Regions from separate parts of the Homo sapiens genome. Here region 1 is linked to region 2. Evidence: fine-mapped expression QTL. A gene starts in region 2. The other region holds a variant in brackets. All regions are shown on one strand. Distances are between the middles of the regions. Region 1 has its middle 20 kb from the start of CEP72-DT. Region 2 holds the start of SLC9A3-OT1 (SLC9A3 3' UTR overlapping transcript 1).

Region 1 (8,910 bases), 120 kb after region 2:
ATGCGTGGAGGTGGTGTGTTTTATGTGTGGAGATGGCGTGTTCCATACGTGGAGATGGCATGTTCCATATGTGGAGGTTGCATGTTCCATGCCAGGAGGTGGTGTGTTCTATATGTGGAGGTTGCATGTTCCATGCCAGGAGGTGGTGTGTTCCATATGTGGAGGATCTGTGTTCCACATGTGGAGGTGGTGTGTTCCATGCCTGGAGGTGGCATGTTCCATGCCTGGAGGTGATGTGTTCCATATGTGGAAGTTGTGTGTTCCATGCATGGAAGTGGCGTATTCCATAGTGGTCTTGCATGCAGAGCTCTGCACAGTTCACACAGAGGCTCAGGTGCATCCCTTGCTGATTGGCTCATCCAGACAAAGCAGTGAAAACCAAGCCCTGGATTTATTAAGAGGGTGGGAGTCCGGGGTGTGGCACAGACCCCTCCGGTCTCGGCCTGTCTGTCCTTCCAACATTTGTCAGGCAGCAGACATGGCTGTTATGGGAAATATGGAAGCGTTGTCTTGCAGCCATCGTGTCCAGTAATGACCTCATTCCATCGCAAATTGGTGGAGAACATGCTCCCGTGAGTTGCCCCAGAGCACAGCGGTGGGTACAGCTGAGATTCTAGCCTGGTTTTACATCTTCCCCCAGCGGCCAAGCCTCCTGATACTAATTGTCATTTTTGTCAATTGTTTTACATTGTTTTTATGGACACATTATTCACACACGTGTCTTCCTGCAGAACACCTGCCAGTGCTGTGCTGTGTTTCTGCAACACGTCAAAATGCTGTGTGGGTGAAAATGAAGTGGTGACAAGGATGTTCTGTTGACGTTTCCCGTGACATCTTTGGGGGAGGGCAGAGGTGTGAGGCCTTCTGTGTCTGTCGAGGCATTAGGGTCAGAAATGATGATGATGTTTTCAGTCTATAACCTTGAAATAAAAATGAACAAGGAATCATACCTATCCCCAAATCCACAGAATGCCCCAGGCTGCTCCCGGCACAGGTGCAGAGCAGAGCCCAGGCTGTGCCTCATTCTGTGAGCAGCAGCTCTGGGGTGGCAATGGACCCACAGCCCATCCAGGCTGTAATGCGGAGGGTGTGCGTTATTCTTGGCACCTGCCATGCCCACAACCGTCAGAACATTGGGGGCTCATCCTGCAGCTCACCAGCTCTGGAATTTTCTGCCCCGAAAGAGAAAAAGCATAACTCCACACTGTCTGACACTGAAGCTTCCAGGAAGGCATCCTCAGAAGTGCCAGGCTCAGCAGATGCTTTCTCAACCGTGAATTCGAGCCAGGTGTTGTCCCAATTTCAGGACGCTGTGATCTATGTCCTTGTCTTGCAGTGACACCATTGCCTTGCTAAGCCATAAATAATGTGATCAGGAACACATTTTGGCTTTGAAGACAGAAGGTCCCAAACCATCATTCAAATGCAAGAGGGAGAGGAAGGCATCAGCTGCCCACATAGTTCACGCCTCCACCTTGGCTGCACCCTAACCATCCCATTGAGAAGTGTATCCATTATCCATGGCTGTGTAACAAATCCCCACAGCTTAGCAGCTTGAGCAACAAGCACTCATCATCTCACAGTTTCTGTGGGTGAGGAAGCTGGGAGTGGTGAGTTGGGTGGTTCTGTCTCAGGGGCTGTCACATGGCTGCTGTCAAGCTCATGCCTGGGGCTGTGGTAATTTGAAGGCTCAACTGGGGCTGCAGATCTGCTTTCAAGGTCTCTCAAATGAGTTTGGCAGGAGGTGCTATTAAAATATTGAAAGTAATCACAAAAACTGCAATTACTTTTGCACCAACCTAATAGTTGCTCTCCTTAAGTATCTCCTAGAGCCAGTGATGTGAGAGTGAGCACTTGGAATGGAGCCGTGGTCTTCCACAGCCTGATCTCAGAGGTGACACCCACAACATCTGCCACTGTCATTTGGCCTGGGTCCAACCTAGTGTGATGAGAAGTGAATACCAGGAGCCAGGGAGGCATGGTCAGGTTGTGGCACCATGGAGGCTGCTAGCACCAAAGTGGGCATATTCAAATGCACTTCCTCTTGTAGTGGTTTGTTCTCATGCTGCTATAAAGAACTGCCTGAGACTTGGTAATTTATGAAGGAAAGAGGTTTAATTGACTCACAGTTTCACAAGGCTGAGGAGGCCTCAGGAAACTTACAATCATGGTGGAAGGGGAAGCAAACATGTCCTTCTTCACATGGCAGCAGCAAGAAGAAGTGCAGAGTGAAGGGGGAAGCCCTTTGTAAAACCATCAGATCTTGTGAAAATCACTCACTATCATGAGAACAGCATGAGGGTAACTGTCCCCATGATTCAATGACTTCCCACCAGGTCCCTCCCATGACATGTGGGGATTATGGGAACTACAATTCAAGATGAGATTTAGGTGGGGACACAGCCAAACCATATCACTTCTGTTGTAAACATTTACTGGCTGCCTGATGTATTTCTAATGTGTTGAATGCTATAGCAAAAAGTCATGTATCTGACAAGACCTGAACAATTACACTGTTTAATTTTCCAATTTTGCTGTGGAAGGAACTTGCCTAAATGAGAGGGACAGAGACTTGCCCAAGATACAAGACATAATTAGCTAGTGATAGAGTTGTTATCAGGATTTTTGTCTCTAATTCCCATTTCTATTTTAGTCCACAAAATTCCAAAGGAAAAAGCACAATCCTTGCCTTTAAGAGTCCAAAAATATTCTTAGGGTGATAAATGCTTTTTAAATAAGTTAATGAATCATGGTCATAGTATTTTCCATAAAATTCCAGAGTTTCCTGTCACCAAACAAGGGAGTGTTAGGTATAATTAGATATGTTCCCCTGGTATCCTAAAAGAATTTTCTTATTAAGAATGTTGATGTGTTGTCATGAATATATTATTTATATTGGAAAATATAGATTGCCATTTTAGTCAATGACAGGTTGTCATGAACCCCACATACCAGTGAGGGCACAATCAAGAGACAGAAACCACAGCAATTATTTAAACACAGAAAACTGAAATGAAGGATTGTTAACCAGGCTTGGAGTTTAGCAGGCAACTGAAAGATATCTTGAAGGTAGAGGCTACTAGAGGAAGCTACTACACCTGTGGCTGGAGGAACAAAGGGGAAATATTGGAACTACTACTATTTTAAAATCAAGACCTCTGAGGAGGGGTACCTGCCAGCTTTAGCTGTTGTCTTGGGGCTCAGAGGGGGGGCCCATGACAGGTGGAGGTTGCATTTCATCCATGTCTCCACGGGAGGAGACGTAAAACTGACCATTTTCTGAAAAGATCGTTTTCTTCCCCCTACTGCTTTGCCAGCATCTTTGTGGTTCTCTCAGTTTTGTTTTCTTTTGTCTTTGTTATAAAAATAGCTTTATTTTAACTTTGTTCTTGAATGATATTTTTACTTGGAGTAATATCCTAGACTGGGAGTTATTTTTTGTTTCTTACACCATTTAAAGATTTTATTGCATTGTCCTCTGGCTTCCATTGTTTCTGCTGAGAAGTTGGATGTCTATCAAATTTTTGCTCCTTCTAAAGTAATCTTACTTTGTATGCTGGTTGCTTTTATGATGTTTATTTTTATTTTGGTTTTCTGTAGTTCACTACAGTGTGTCTAACATGTGGATTTCTATTTATGTTATCTATTTCACTGGAGATTTTTCCCTTCAAATCTTGTATCATTTTTTAAAAATTTCATTAGTTGGACTTCACCTTTCTCTAGTAACTCCTTGATTAGCTTAATAATAGACCTTTTGAATTCTTTTTCTGGCACTTCAGGGATTTCTTATTGGTTTGGATCCATTGCTGGTGAGCTAGCATGCACTTTTGGGGGTACTAAAGAATGTTGTTTTGTCATATTACTGGAATTGTTTTTCTGCTTCCTTCTCATTTGGTAGACTATGTCAGAGGGAAGATCTGGGTCTCAAGGGCTGCTGTTCAGATTCTTTTGTCCCACAGGGTGTTCCCTTGAGGTGGTGCTCTCCCCCTTCCTCTAGCGATGGGGCTTCCTGAGGGCCGAACTGCAGTAATTGTTTTGCTCTTCTTGGTCTAGCCACCCAGTGGAGCTACTGGGCTCCAGGCTGGTACAGGGGAGTGTCTGCACAGAGTCCTGTGACGTGCTCTGTCTTCAGGTCTCTCAGCCATGGATACCAGCACCTGCTCTGGTGGAGGTGTCAGGGGAGTGAAGTGGACTCTGAGGGTCCTTGGTGGTAGCGTTGTTAAGTGCGCTGGTTTGGTATAGGTTGGCCTCCAGCCAGGAGGTGGTGCTTTCAAGAGTGCATCAGCTGAGGTTTTATAGAGAAGATACAAGCTTGCCCTAGAGCCCCCAGGAGATTATGTCCTTTGTCTTCAGCTACCAGGACAGGTAGAGAAAGACCACCAGGTGGGGGCAGGGTTAGGCATGTCCGAACTCAGCCTCTCCTTGGGTGGGGCTTGCTGCAGCTGCTGTAGGAGATGGGGCGTGGTTCCCTGGTCAATGGAGTTATGTTCCCAGAGGGATTATGGCTGCCTCTGCT[G/A]TGTCATACAGGTCGCCAGGGAAGTGTGGGGAAGCAGGCAGTTACAGGCTTCACCCCACTCCCACACAGCCAGCAAGGCCAGTCTCACTCCTGCCATTCGCCCCCACTCCCAACAGCACAAAGTCTGTCTCCGGGCAGTGGGTGAGCAGGGCTGCAAACCTGCCCCAGGCTATCTGCTTCCCAGCTGAGAAAGTAAGCAGAGTTTTAAGGCTTTGTGCCTCCCCACCTGGACACACCATTGGTCTGGGAACACTGTAACCCAGGATCAGGGACAGGGGGGTCCTGGAGTTCCCAGATGACTTGGAGTTGGGCTGCGGCCCCTGGCAGGCTGGTTGACCTCAGTTTACCTTTTATCCCCATGAAGAGCTATATAGGTTCTCTTCCCAAGCAGGGGATACAGAGCAGAAACTTTATTCCTCCTGGGTCTTTGTGCCAACACTTGTCCCCCGACCCCAAAGTACTTTCAAAAGGATGGCACTGATTTTTAGCCACTGCTCCTGAAATTGGCATGGCCCACAGAAGGCATGTCCCCAGATCCCAGGCTCACCCACCTACAATCGCATTTCTCTTGGCTGCCAGCCGGGCTTGTCTACACCCAGATCCCAGGCTCACCCACCTACAGTCGCATTTCTCTTGGGTGCCAGCCAGGCGTGTCTACACTACTTGGTTGGTTTCCAGTGCCTTCAAGCAGATATGGTTCTATTTTGTCCAAGTTTTCCAGTTATCCTTGGCATCTGGGGGGGTATAGGTGATCTAGACTTCCATTTTTGGAAGTGGAATTTCCTGGGTTGATTTCTTTTCCTGTTTAATATTTAAAGATGCACTGTGGGCCATGTGCGGTGGCTCACACTTATAATCCCAGCACTTTGGGTGGCCGATGTAGGTGGATCACCTGAGGTCAGGAGTTTGAGACCAGCCTGGCCATCATGGTGAAACCCCGTCTCTACTAAAAATACAAAAATTAGCCAGGTGTGGTGGCGTGTGCCTGTAATTCCAGCTACTCAGGAGGCTGAGGCAGGAGGATCACTTGAACCAGGTAGGTGGAGTTTGTAGTGAGCTGAGATTACACCACTGCACTCCAGCCTGGGTGACAGCGAGACTCCGTCTCAAAAACAACAACAAAAACAAAAAGACACACTGTGCATGTCCCTGGCCCAGGGCAGAAGTCACAGCCCAGCCTGTTGCCATTAGACACTCTGTTCCGTGACATGTCCCACGAGTCCCACACGTTGCCGAGGCCAGATCTTTACTGACCACTGGAGCCACCTTATGGCCTCAGGATGTGGCTTTGCTGGCATTCCTGTGGAAGAGGCACTGCCCCATCCATGTGCCACCCTGTGCTGTGATGGGGAGCCTGGCTGCTGCACTCACACTCGGGGTGGAAAGCAAAGCCCGACCCCTAATTTAGCCAGTGGGACTCAGGAGCAGGCCATTCACTTGTTCAATTCTGTCCATACTGAAGAGACGCCGGGCCCCTGGCAAGAGGCTACAGAGCCTCTTGCTTCCCTCAGAACCTCTCCTGGGGATAAGTTCCTGTTGTCCCTAAGTCAGCAATGAGGCTGAACCAAAAAGCAATGTGGCCAGGCCAGGGAAACCTTCTCTTTACGGCCAAGAAGTGGGGACCTGCATCTTTGGCCAAAGCAGACTTATGGGATTTAAGGACAAAGAGGCTAAATACACAAAGAAAAGGTGTGTGTACGTGTTTCCTAGGACTTCTGTAACAAATTATTGCACACCGCATGGCTGGAAACACTGGAAGTGTATTCTGTCACTGTTTCAGAGATGAGACGTGTAATTCAAGGTGTCCACAGGACCATGCACCCTCCAAAGGCTCCAGGGAGGAACTTTCCTTGCCTCTTTCCCTTTCTGGTGTTGTCCACAATTCTGGGTTGTCCCTGGCTTGTGACAACATCACACTATGCTGGCCTTCCTTCTCTGTGTGTCTGTGTGTCCAAATTTCTCTCTCTTATAAGGGTGTCATCATTAGGCTCACTCCAGTCCAGTGTGACCTCATCTTATTTAATGACATCTGCAAAGACCTGATTTCCAAATAAGGCACTGGGTGTTGGGATTTGGACATACCTTCTGAGGGGGAACTCAATCGTACCCACAACAGTGTGCTTCCTCTTTTGGATACACTGGGGATGGTTCCCTCTCTCTGGACCTGATACTGCTCTTTCCCCAAAGGCCACTGATTAGTCAACATGCTCCCTGGGGCTCATGTCAGCCAAGGAGGGCAATTGATTTCCAACCACCTGTCAACATCTGCTTTACCCCCTGGGCTGAGAGCTGAGTTTCCCACAGTGACAAGTAGGTGATAAAAGACAGGTGTCCAAGTGTTTCCTGGAGAAAAAGCACTGGTTTAACTTATTTAATTAGTTCCAGAGAAGCAGTCAGACAGAAATGACACATCCCCTACAGGGCACAATAATCCCGGCTGCAGTTTCTCATCAGATGCTGTGCAGACCAGGATGTGGAAGAACATTGAAAACAAGAAACCAAAGGAAGCACCAAGCCAGAGTTGTGCATCTGTGAGAATTTCAGAAATGGAGGAAAAATCGATGCAAGAATACCCTTCAGAAATGAAAAAATCGACCGAAAATACCCTTCAGAAATGAATTAAAAATCAACACGAGAATACCCTTCAGAAATGAAGGAAAAATCAATGCGAGAACACCCTTTGGAAACGAAGGAAAAATCGATGCGAGAACACCCTTCAGAAATGAAAAATCAACGTGAGAACACCCTTCGGAAATGAAGGAAAAGTCGACGTGAGAACACCCTTCGGAAATGAAGGAAAAATCGACGCGAGAACACCCTTCAGAAATGAAGAAAAGTCGACGCGAGAACACCCTTCGGAAACGAAAGAAAAATCGATGCGAGAACACCCTTCGGAAACGAAGGAAAAATCGACGCGAGAACACCCTTCGGAAATGAAAGAAAAATTGATGATCTCCAGTGAGGACGCACTAAGAGAATTTGTTGCCGGCACACCTGCTTTAAAAGATGCCAAAGCAAGTTCTTCAGCTTGAGGGAAGATACAGAGGAAAACCCACAACCCCAAGAAGGAAGAAAGGGCAAGACAAGCAGTAAATGTCCAAGGAAACACAGCACACTATTGTTCTCCTCTTTACCCCAAGTGACTTTTCTTGCTCTGAATCTATTTTGTCTCACATGAATAGAGCTGTTTGAGGATTTTTGTGTAACTGATGTTGGCCTGATAGCTCTTTTCCCATCCTTTGACTGTGAAACAGTCTGTATCATTACATTGAAAATGAGTTTCTTGTAGACAGCATGTAGATGAGTCTTTAAAGTACATATGATGGTTGAAAGCAACAATTAACAACATTGCTTGGTTGAATTTTCAATATGTGCAGGTGCAATACGATGACTGTGACAAAGGGCACAGTGAAGGGGCCTTGGTGGGGACAAGGTCCCAGCATTCCAGCCAGAAGTGGTAAAATATTAATTCTGCATAGACTGGCAAGGTGAGGAGGAGTTAGAATGTATATTGCAATCCTTAGAATGACAATACACAGAGATAGAATTCAAGAAACCATTAGATAAATCAAAATGAAATACCACAAAATATCCCAATAATCCAAAAGAAGACATGCAAAGGGGAAAAGGAGAAAAAATCAGAGGTGCCAAATAGAGGACATGCAAGAAATGCTGGACCTAAATTCAGACACATCAGTAATGAATATAAATGTAGATGATCTAAACATACTGATTAAAGGCAGAAATTATCAGACTGGATAAAGGCAAGTCTTATCTACAGGCTGTCTATAAAAACCCTCTTTAAATACAAAATATAGGCAGATTAAACATAAAAGGATAGAAAAAGATATGCCAAGCAAACACCAATTAAAAAAACTGGAGTGACAAAGTAGATTTCAGAGCAAGGAAAATTCCTAAGAGTAAAGAGGGACGTTGCATAATGACAAAGGATCAACTCCCCAAGAAGACCTAGTAATCCTAAACACATATGCACCCAACGATAGGGCTTCCAAACACACAAGACAAAGACGATAGAGCTGCCTGAAAGGGAACAGGCAGCTCCATACTGGAATTGGTGACCCCAACATTCCCATCTCAGTTGGTTAGGGCTGCCATGTCAAAATACCACAGACTGGGGCCTTAAAGGGCAAAAATTTGTTTTCTCACCATTCTGGAAGCTGGAGGACCAAGATGAAGGCTGTTGGGGTTGACTTCTCAGTGTTCTCACATGGTATTTTTTTGTGCTGGTGTGGAGAGTGAATGATTCCTGGCTTCTTTCCATCTTCTTGTAAGGACATAAGTCCTATTGAATCGGACCCCCTCATATGACTTCTTGCAACCATAATCACCTCCTTACAGGCCCTGTCTCTAAATACAGTTACATTGGGGGTTAG
Region 2 (8,368 bases):
CCTCCTGGTCCCCTCATGTCTGACATCCCCTCAGCCTAGAGGGCGCCCTCCTGATCCCCTCATGTCTGACATCCCCTCAGCCTGGAGGGCGCCCTCCTGGTCCCCTCGTATCTGACATCCCCTCAGCCTGGAGGGCGCCCTCCTGGTCCCCTCCTGTCTGACATCCCCTCAGCCTGGAGGGCGCCCTCCTGATCCCCTCCTGTCTGACATCCCCTCAGCCTGGAGGGCGCCCTCCTGGTCCCCTCGTATCTGACATCCCCTCAGCCTGGAGGGCGCCCTCCTGGTCCCCTCCTGTCTGACATCCCCTCAGCCTGGAGGGCGCCCTCCTGATCCCCTCCTGTCTGACATCCCCTCAGCCTGGAGGGCGCCCTCCTGGTCCCCTCGTATCTGACATCCCCTCAGCCTGGAGGGCGCCCTCCTGGTCCCCTCGTATCTGACATCCCCTCAGCCTGGAGGGCGCCCTCCTGGTCCCCTCGTATCTGACATCCCCTCAGCCTGGAGGGCGCCCTCCTGGTCCCCTCCTGTCTGACATCCCCTCAGCCTGGAGGGCGCCCTCCTGGTCCCCTCCTGTCTGACATCCCCTCAGCCTGGAGGGCGCCCTCCTGGTCCCCTCCTGTCTGACATCCCCTCAGCCTGGAGGGCGCCCTCCTGGTCCCCTCCTGTCTGACATCCCCTCAGCCTGGAGGGTGCCCTCCTGGTCCCCTCCTGTTTGACATCCCCAGAGTTACTCCTTGGGTCCTTTGAGAGATGAGACACCAGCTGCACCCAGCAAGCCCTGTCCCCACCCCCAGGTGAGCAGACCTCTGGCACCGGGTGTTGCCAGCCAAGTCAGCCATACCTGGTAGACGAGCAATGGCAGGAGTGTAAATTTTGGTAAAAGTAAATATGAAAGTGAATATTTACTTGGAGTACACTTCAAGACCCGCGAATCATGCTTTCCCTGATAGAGAATCCTTTAAATTCTCTTTTCTAAAATGTACCCATCTCTCTACAGCATCTGCCTTCAATGGTAGCATCATTTTGCACGTTAATCTTTAATTTTTTTCCAAAGCTAATCAAGGCATTACCCCGGAGGCCGGGCGCAGTGGCTCACGCCTGTAATCCCAACACTTTGGGAGGCCAAGGTGGGTGGATCATTTGAGATCAGGAGTTTGCAAAGACCAGCCTGGCCAACATGGTGAAACCCCATCTCTACTAAAAATACAAAAATTAGCCAGGTGTGGTGGTGCATGCCTGTAATTCCAGCTACTTGGGAGGCTGAGGCAGAATTGCTTGAACCCCGGAGGCGGAGGTTGCAGTGAGCCGAGATTTCACCACTGCACTCCAGCCTGGGCAACGGAGCGAGACTCCGTCTCAAAGGAAGGGGGGAATTACCCAGGATGAGCAGGGAGTCCTGGGTCCTGGTGCTCAGAGGGGCAGACCCCTGTGCTCTCTTAATTTACAGAAAAGTATTGATTTGGTTGAGTGAGTGAAAGGCATTGACCTTCATTCCTCCTCTCGCCTGTGTATACAGCGCTTCGTTCCCTCCATCCCTGTCTGTCTCAGAGCCCCAGGGACTCGCAGATGGGCGAGGTGGGGGTGTCAGCGGGCCCTTCTGTCCCTGTGAGGACCCCACAAGACTGGCCCATGGGCCCCAGGCAGTGCAGGTGGGAGAGGCGGGGGTGTCAGCGGGCCCTTCTGTCCCTGTGAGGACCTCACAAGGCTGGCCCACGGGCCCCATGCAGTGCAGGTGGGAGAGGTGGGAGTGTCAGCAGACCCATCTGTTCCTGTGAGTACCCCACAAGGCTGGCCCGTGGGCCCCGTGCAGTGCAGGTGGGAGAGGTGGGGGTGTCAGCGGGGCCATCTGTTCCTGTGAGGGCCTCCCATGGCTGCCCATGGGCCGCAGGTACTCCAGCCTGAGGACACGCTTTGCTCTCAAGACGTTTTTGAGATGGCAGAGTTGACATTTTGCTTTTATTTCATCCTCACAAGATGTGAAAAATTCACAAATGGGACTTCTTGAAAGAATCAAAACTTGAGAAGTAACTGAGAAGTAGAAGCAGCTCTTAACAAGCATCAGGGGCTCAGAAGAGGTAGCTCTTCCCAGGGCATCCAGCGGGCGAGCTGTTCCATGTGCCTCTGAACCCAGCTTCCCACTTAGCAGCAGGTCTTGAGTGCACCTGGCATACAGTAAGTGCTCAGTAAATGCATATGAATTAGAATTCGTAGTGTTCACAGTCATTAGAGTGTCCCTTATAAGAATGAAAAATGCATTTATTTTCCCACTGAGAGGGAATTCTTGTTACTTCTGGAATGAGTGCCCAGGGCGAATGGTGGTGAGTGTGCAGCCCTCACTGGTGTTTTGCTCTGATTCTGTGTGAGGGTCACCGCTGGGACCCACGGTCACTGGTCACATCCTCCTCACGGGTGCCTGCAATGACAGGCCTCCGCAGGGGGCTCTGACCCCATCTGTCTGCACCGGAGGGGCTGTGCTCAGATCCAGGGGTCGCGCCACAGCTGTGTCCAGTGGCTTCCTCACACCAGCTAGGAAGGGCAGCAACAGCACGTGCACGCACACACGCACACAACGCGCACACACACGCATGTGTCAGTGCTAATTTTTGGGCAGAGCGATGTCTGCCTACAGGAGACGTCTCCTTAAATTCTCATAGGTGGATATTTCTCTTTTATAAACAAAGTTTGCACCCAAAATGCCTTGAAATGTTTTTAATAGAATTGGTCTAGTAATCGTTCAGGATTTCGGTGATGGGCCCTCCCTGTCTGGACACTGCCAACCCACAGCTGGAGGGGCACTTAAGGCACGTCATTTTGTGATTAGAATTACACGAAATTTGATTAATATTATAGCTGCAAAATTAACATACACAATTTTCACTCATAATTTAAAATATTTTGATGAAATTCTTTGCTTTCACAATAGAAGATCAATGGTACACAGTATATTGAACTCTGTAACAAAATTATTTTTGAGAAAATACAGAAGTGAGAAATAGTGATTTCCTCAATTTGTTTATAGTCTATCACAAAGTAGGCCAAAGTTCAGTATTAAATAGATATCCTAATAAAAGTTTTTACAAGTTTTCCTAAGGAAATACATTCATAAGACTGTTTACCTTCTGTTTGACAGCAGTGACAGGAACGTGGGGATCCCCACTCATGACGAGTCCCTAGCACTCAGCCCCTGGCACCCACAGCCCCGGCGCGCTCCGTCACCTGGTAGGGAGCAGCCTGGGCTGCCGTGAGTGAGGTGTTCTCACTCTGGTTCCGTGTTTGTGTTTAGCCTGTGCAATTCTCGTCAACACAGAACACCTGCCTGCCCACCCCCGGTGCTGAAGACCGACCAGTCAAGGAGGTGTTGGTGGGAGTGTTGTGTTCACCATGTGGAGATCAGGCGGCGATTACCGCATCTTCTTTGCTGACTTTGGTAACCGGGTGTCCAGGGAGGAGCGATCGGGAGTGGCCAAGCAGTTGCCTGGACTCAGCTTCTGACTCTGCAGCTGGGAGTCAGATGCAGGCCCAAGGGTCCAGGGGAGTTGTTCAGCGCCTGGAATCGCCATGCATTGCGCGGTGGACCGCACGACGCTCCTGCTCTGTTCTCCCAGGCACAGACAGGCACTTGGAAGGCAGCTTTGCTCCTCTGGCCACCCGGAAACCTCCCAGCAGTTCAGATGGGACAAACTGGGGGCCTGTCAGAACAGCCACTTGTGCCGGGAAGGCCAGGCCCCGGCCTGCTCCGATGAACGTCAGGACGGTGGCTGCAGCAGGGAACCAGGGCTGGCCTTGGATCTGTCCAGTAGGGTCACTGACTGGGCAGGGCTTGCTGCATAGAGGATGGCTGCATTTTGTGCTCAGAGTTGGTTGAAATGGCTACGAAGTGTGGAGAATAACCACTGAATCCCAAAAAGTCACTGCGCTTGATCTGATCCAAGTAACAGTGACTGCAGTTAGGGTCGAGAGCTTCTCCGAAGCAGCGGTCATGCAGGCTTTTGTGTGGCTGACGCTTCCCTTTTTCACAACAGTAAAAAGCTATCAATGGGAAATTGTGGACTTTTCCCACCAGGGACTCAATGGGGACTCAATGTGCAATATTCAGTCAACATAAAACTCTTTAAGAACTCCTCCTGACTGGTGACTGTCAACACTTGATCTGAAACGTGAATAGTTTAATTTTCCTGAGCAAGGAGCTGCGAGTCTAGCTTTAGAAAAGCCCCTAGGAGTGTCCACCTCCACCACTTCCACCGTGCAGGCAGGTTTCAGGTGGGTTGGACCCTGTGGGACTTGCCGTCTGAGGGATGGATGGACTCCGAGCACCCTCCCCGGCTCAGCACCCGCGGCCTCCGCCCACTCAATGGACTGTGCCTCCCAGAGCTTGGGCTGGATGGTCTCCCTGCAGAGGACCAGGAGCTCTGTCCAAGGCCTCGCCCTGGGACGCTGGAAGGGGTGGGAAGGGTCAGGGGTCCGGGGTCTAGGACAGGCTCAGGGGTCTCAGCAGGTTCTCCTTGGAGGGCCTGAGCCTGGTAGGGGGGCGGTGCCCTGGGCCCCTCCATGCCCCCTGGTTTGTTAAGGGGGACAGAGCAGCTGCTGGGCCCCACCATCCACTTAAGGACTGGCCGTGATTCTTGGCAAGCTCCGCCCGCCAGGCCACCTCTCACCCAGCCAGGGCACCCCGGGCGACCTCCGCGCCAGGTGCGACAGCTCAGGCCGGAGACCTCGTCTGTGGGGACGGGCCGTGTCCGGGGCCGCCACCCTGAGACCGGGCGCGGGCAGGACGGAACCTGGGGGGGAAACGGGGCAGGTACTGGCTTTAGGAGTCTAAATCCCCAAACGCTGAGCAGACGGAAGACGTTCCTGCCACTTTACCTGCAGTTCAAAGACCTGGCGAGGGCCTGGAAACGGCGCTCGGCCCAGGCCGCTTGCGGGCGCTGGGCCTGCAGCCGCTGCAGGTCGGGCCCTGAGTCCTGGCGCTCGGGAGGTCCCTGAGTCGGTCCCCGAGTCAGTCCCCGGGCGCGGGGCTCGGTTGGGGGGGCCCGGAACCTTGGGCTGGTTTCACGCAAATCCGTTTGGGGCGAGCCTCGGTTTCCCGGCAGCGGTGGGAAAGGGCGCGAGCGGCCAGCCATGGCGCGCGGACCCTTCCCGCCGGCGGCGTCACAGCGGCGTCTCCTCCTGCTCCAGCGCGTGCGGCGGTGCGTGGCACGAGGGCGGCAGCGACGCCAGCTTCAGCAGCGCGGGGCGGCGGCGCGCGCGAGGCCGCTGGAACGAGCGCCGGCTGTGCACGCGGCGCGCCGCCGCCGAACGCGCGTGCGCACTCGGCAGCCCTCGGCGCTCCGGCCCCGCCCCCGGCGCAGGCCCCGCCCCCGGCTCGCCCTCGGGCGGCTCTGCGGGCGCAGGCGCGGCACTCTCGGAGTTCTGCGCAGGCGCTGGCGTGGGCGAGGCGGGGCTCGGGGCTCGCGGTCGCTGTAGCCGCGCGGGGATCTGGGGTTTCTCTGGGACAGCGGCGGCGGCGGTGGGCGGACCGTGGCGCGGGGACGAGCGGCCGGTTAGCGGCGTGTCGGAGCCGGTGTCACCTGCGGGAGAGGAAGGCGTGAGCGGCGCGCGGAGCCCGGGCGCTGGGGCGGGAGGGGCGTCCCCGGGGGCCTCAGCTGTCCCCGAGCCCGGCGGCTCTCGCCTCCCCTCCCGCGGCGCACCCCAGGCTCGGCGTCCGCTGGGGCCTCCTCCCAGGACCCGGGTTCGCGGGGCAGAGGCGGAAGCAGCAACAGCGAAGCCCCAGCCCGGCCCCGCCACGTCCCCCCGCCGGGGGTCCCGGGACAGCGGCCTCCTCGGCGCAGGAAGGTCCCGCCCCAGGCCCTGCAGCGCGGGAGGTCAAGGTCCCCAAGGGGACCTGCTTCCTCCATCTCAAACCGCCCTGGCGTCCCCCGGGTGCCTCCCAGGCCCCCAGAGGGAGCTCAGAAAGCCCAGACCCCACGGCCCGCCCCTCTCCCTGCTCTGAGCTGGAGGCAGAGTCCGGGTCTGCGGGGCCGGCCCTCCCTGTATCCCTGTGAGAGGGTCGGGGACCCGGGGCGTCTGTCTGGCTTCCCCCAGCCCTGCTCTCAGCTCCCTGGGAGCGCAGGATTTGGACTCGCGGACTAGCTTTCGGAGCCACCTAAAGGAAATCTCAGGCGGCCCTAGTGCCCTCAGCTCCGTGGGAGCAGCAGAGACGCCAGAGTATCTCTGTCCGGGCTCCTGAGGGAGGTGCGGCCAGCAGGGCGCTAGAGGAGGAAGAGGGGCTGCTGGAGAGAGAGAGCGCGCCAGGTTCAGGTCCAGGGAGGAGAGAGAGCGAGCGCGCGAGGCGGAGACCTGGAGGGAGAGGAGCTGCGGAGAGGGGTTAGGCGGGGAGGGAGAGAGAGAACCAGGTTCCGGTCCAGGGAGGAGAGAGACAGCGCGCGCGAGGCGGAGACCTGGAGGAGAGGAGCTGCGGAGAGGGGTTAGGCGGGGAGAGAGAGAGAGCGAGCCAGGTTCAGGTCCAGGGAGGAGAGAGACAGCGCGCGCGAGGCGGAGACCTGGAGGGAGAGGAGCTGCGGAGAGGGGTTAGGCGGGGAGGGAGAGAGAGAACCAGGTTCAGGTCCAGGGAGGAGAGAGACAGCGCGCGCGAGGCGGAGACCTGGAGGAGAGGAGCTGCGGAGAGGGGTTAGGCGGGGAGAGAGAGAGAGCGAGCCAGGTTCAGGTCCAGGGAGGAGAGAGACAGCGCGCGCGAGGCGGAGACCTGGAGGGAGAGGAGCTGCGGAGAGGGGTTAGGCGGGGAGGGAGAGAGCCAGGTTCAGGTCCAGGGAGGAGAGAGACAGCGCGCGCGAGGCGGAGACCTGGAGGGAGAGGAGCTGCGGAGAGGGGTTAGGCGGGGAGAGAGAGAGCGAGCCAGGTTCAGGTCCAGGGAGGAGAGAGACAGCGCGCGCGAGGCGGAGACCTGGAGGGAGAGGAGCTGCGGAGAGGGGTTAGGCGGGGAGGGAGAGAGACAGCGCGCGCGAGGCGGAGACCTGGAGGGAGAGGAGCTGCGGAGAGGGGTTAGGCGGCGGGAGGCCCGGGAGCGTTACATGTGTGTGGACTCGGGGAGGGCGGCGGGGGGCCGCTCCTCGGGGCCGTCTGCCTGCAGGAAGGAGTCCACGGACTTGCTGCTGAGGCGGAAGGGCATCAGGCGGCAGAAGGTGCCGGGAGAGTAGGGAATCTGCGTGCGGGCCCTCTGCGAGGGGACCACCGTCTCCCCGGGAGACAGCCAGGGCGGCAGCCTGGCCAGGAGGCTGCGGTCCAGGGCCTCGTCCGGAGAAAACACAGGGTTGTCAATTCCTAGGAGAGAGGGCAGCGGCTAGTCAGCCTTCGGAGAGCCCCACGGCGGCAGGGGAGACCTCGCCGGGGCCGTCACCTGCTGGGTGCCTTGGAAAGTTAGGGTCACCGGGAAGGTTAGGGTCACGTGCCTTTCAGGTTGCGGGCCCTTCCCCCACATCCATGACCCCACACGCCACAGGCAGCACAGGTAACGTCTCGCTTCCCTCAAGACATACCCCACCTGCTCCCTGCCCGGCCCACGTCTCCCCGGACAGCAGCCTCCGAGTTGGTTGAGGGGGCACTCAGTGGGTGCCAAGCAGGGCCCTTGAGAACCCACAGGAGACCCCACCCCCCCAGGTCCCAGTGCCCCTGGTCCAATGACCGAGCTCCCTCCTGGGGCGGCAGGAGCCACCCCTCCCTTAGCCACGACGCCTGTGCCCCGTCCCCACCTGCAGGGGAGTCGGACGCTGTGTCCTTGGTGACACTAGCCAGGAACTCGATCCCCCCACTCATCTCCTCATCATAGTTGGGGGGCTCCTCGGTGTCTGAAAGTTCCAAGTCTGGGGAAGACAGGTTGGGGTGAGGACTGGGGTCACTGGGGGGCTGTCCTCACAGCCCAGTCAGCAGTGTCCATCAGCTCTGTGCACAGAGGTGCAGGCAGTCGGGACCCACAGAGAGGAGGGCTAAACCGCAGGGCTGGAGGAGGGACCCCACTTAGAGGGCAGTGTCCCTGGAACCCCATCCTGGGTGGGTCTGCAGCTGGGGCCCTGACCATGCCTCCCCTGCCTGGGTGGCTGGAGGGTCCCCAGAGGGGAAGGTCCTGAGAGGGGAGGTTCCCGAGCCGGGAGGGCTGGGGCTGGGAGGTGGTGGCTCCCAGTCCCAGCGTTCCTGCAGGGCCCCCAGCGCACCTTTCTCCTTGATGGTGAAATTCTGCGCAGGGCTCTCCATGGGCAGCTTCCCATTGGGGATGCTGCTGTTTCTCTGCGGAGCAAACGTGAAGCTGCTCACACCCCGACACAGCCACACCCAGCCCTGACTGCCCCCGCTCCAGGCCCCAGCCCCGCCAAGCCTCCTG

The links. PIP is the estimated chance that this variant, and not a neighbour inherited with it, causes the effect.
Region 1: its variant is fine-mapped to the expression of SLC9A3-OT1 in whole blood (TOPMed, PIP 0.98).

Annotation. Positions count from the first base shown.
Region 1 is chr5:587,806-596,715 of GRCh38, forward strand. No RefSeq gene overlaps it. Among named protein-coding and RNA genes, the nearest start is that of CEP72-DT, 20 kb to the right of the region's middle. The variant G/A (reference allele first, on the strand shown) is at 4,517.
Region 2 is chr5:467,819-476,186 of GRCh38, forward strand. SLC9A3-OT1 (SLC9A3 3' UTR overlapping transcript 1) reads right to left here and starts at 5,147. Exons shown (of 2, transcript NR_024158.1): 1 at 4,861-5,147; 2 at 2,692-4,147. It overlaps SLC9A3 (solute carrier family 9 member A3), which reads right to left. Exons shown (of 17, transcript NM_004174.4): 14 at 8,202-8,274; 15 at 7,743-7,853; 16 at 7,065-7,314; 17 at 2,638-5,564. The coding sequence ends at 5,561. SLC9A3-AS1 (SLC9A3 antisense RNA 1) reads left to right here and starts at 5,418. Exons shown (of 7, transcript NR_125375.1): 1 at 5,418-5,581; 2 at 7,319-7,501. RefSeq lists enhancers at 4,099-4,741, 4,742-5,382, 7,310-7,950 and silencers at 4,626-4,755, 5,116-5,185, 5,306-6,125.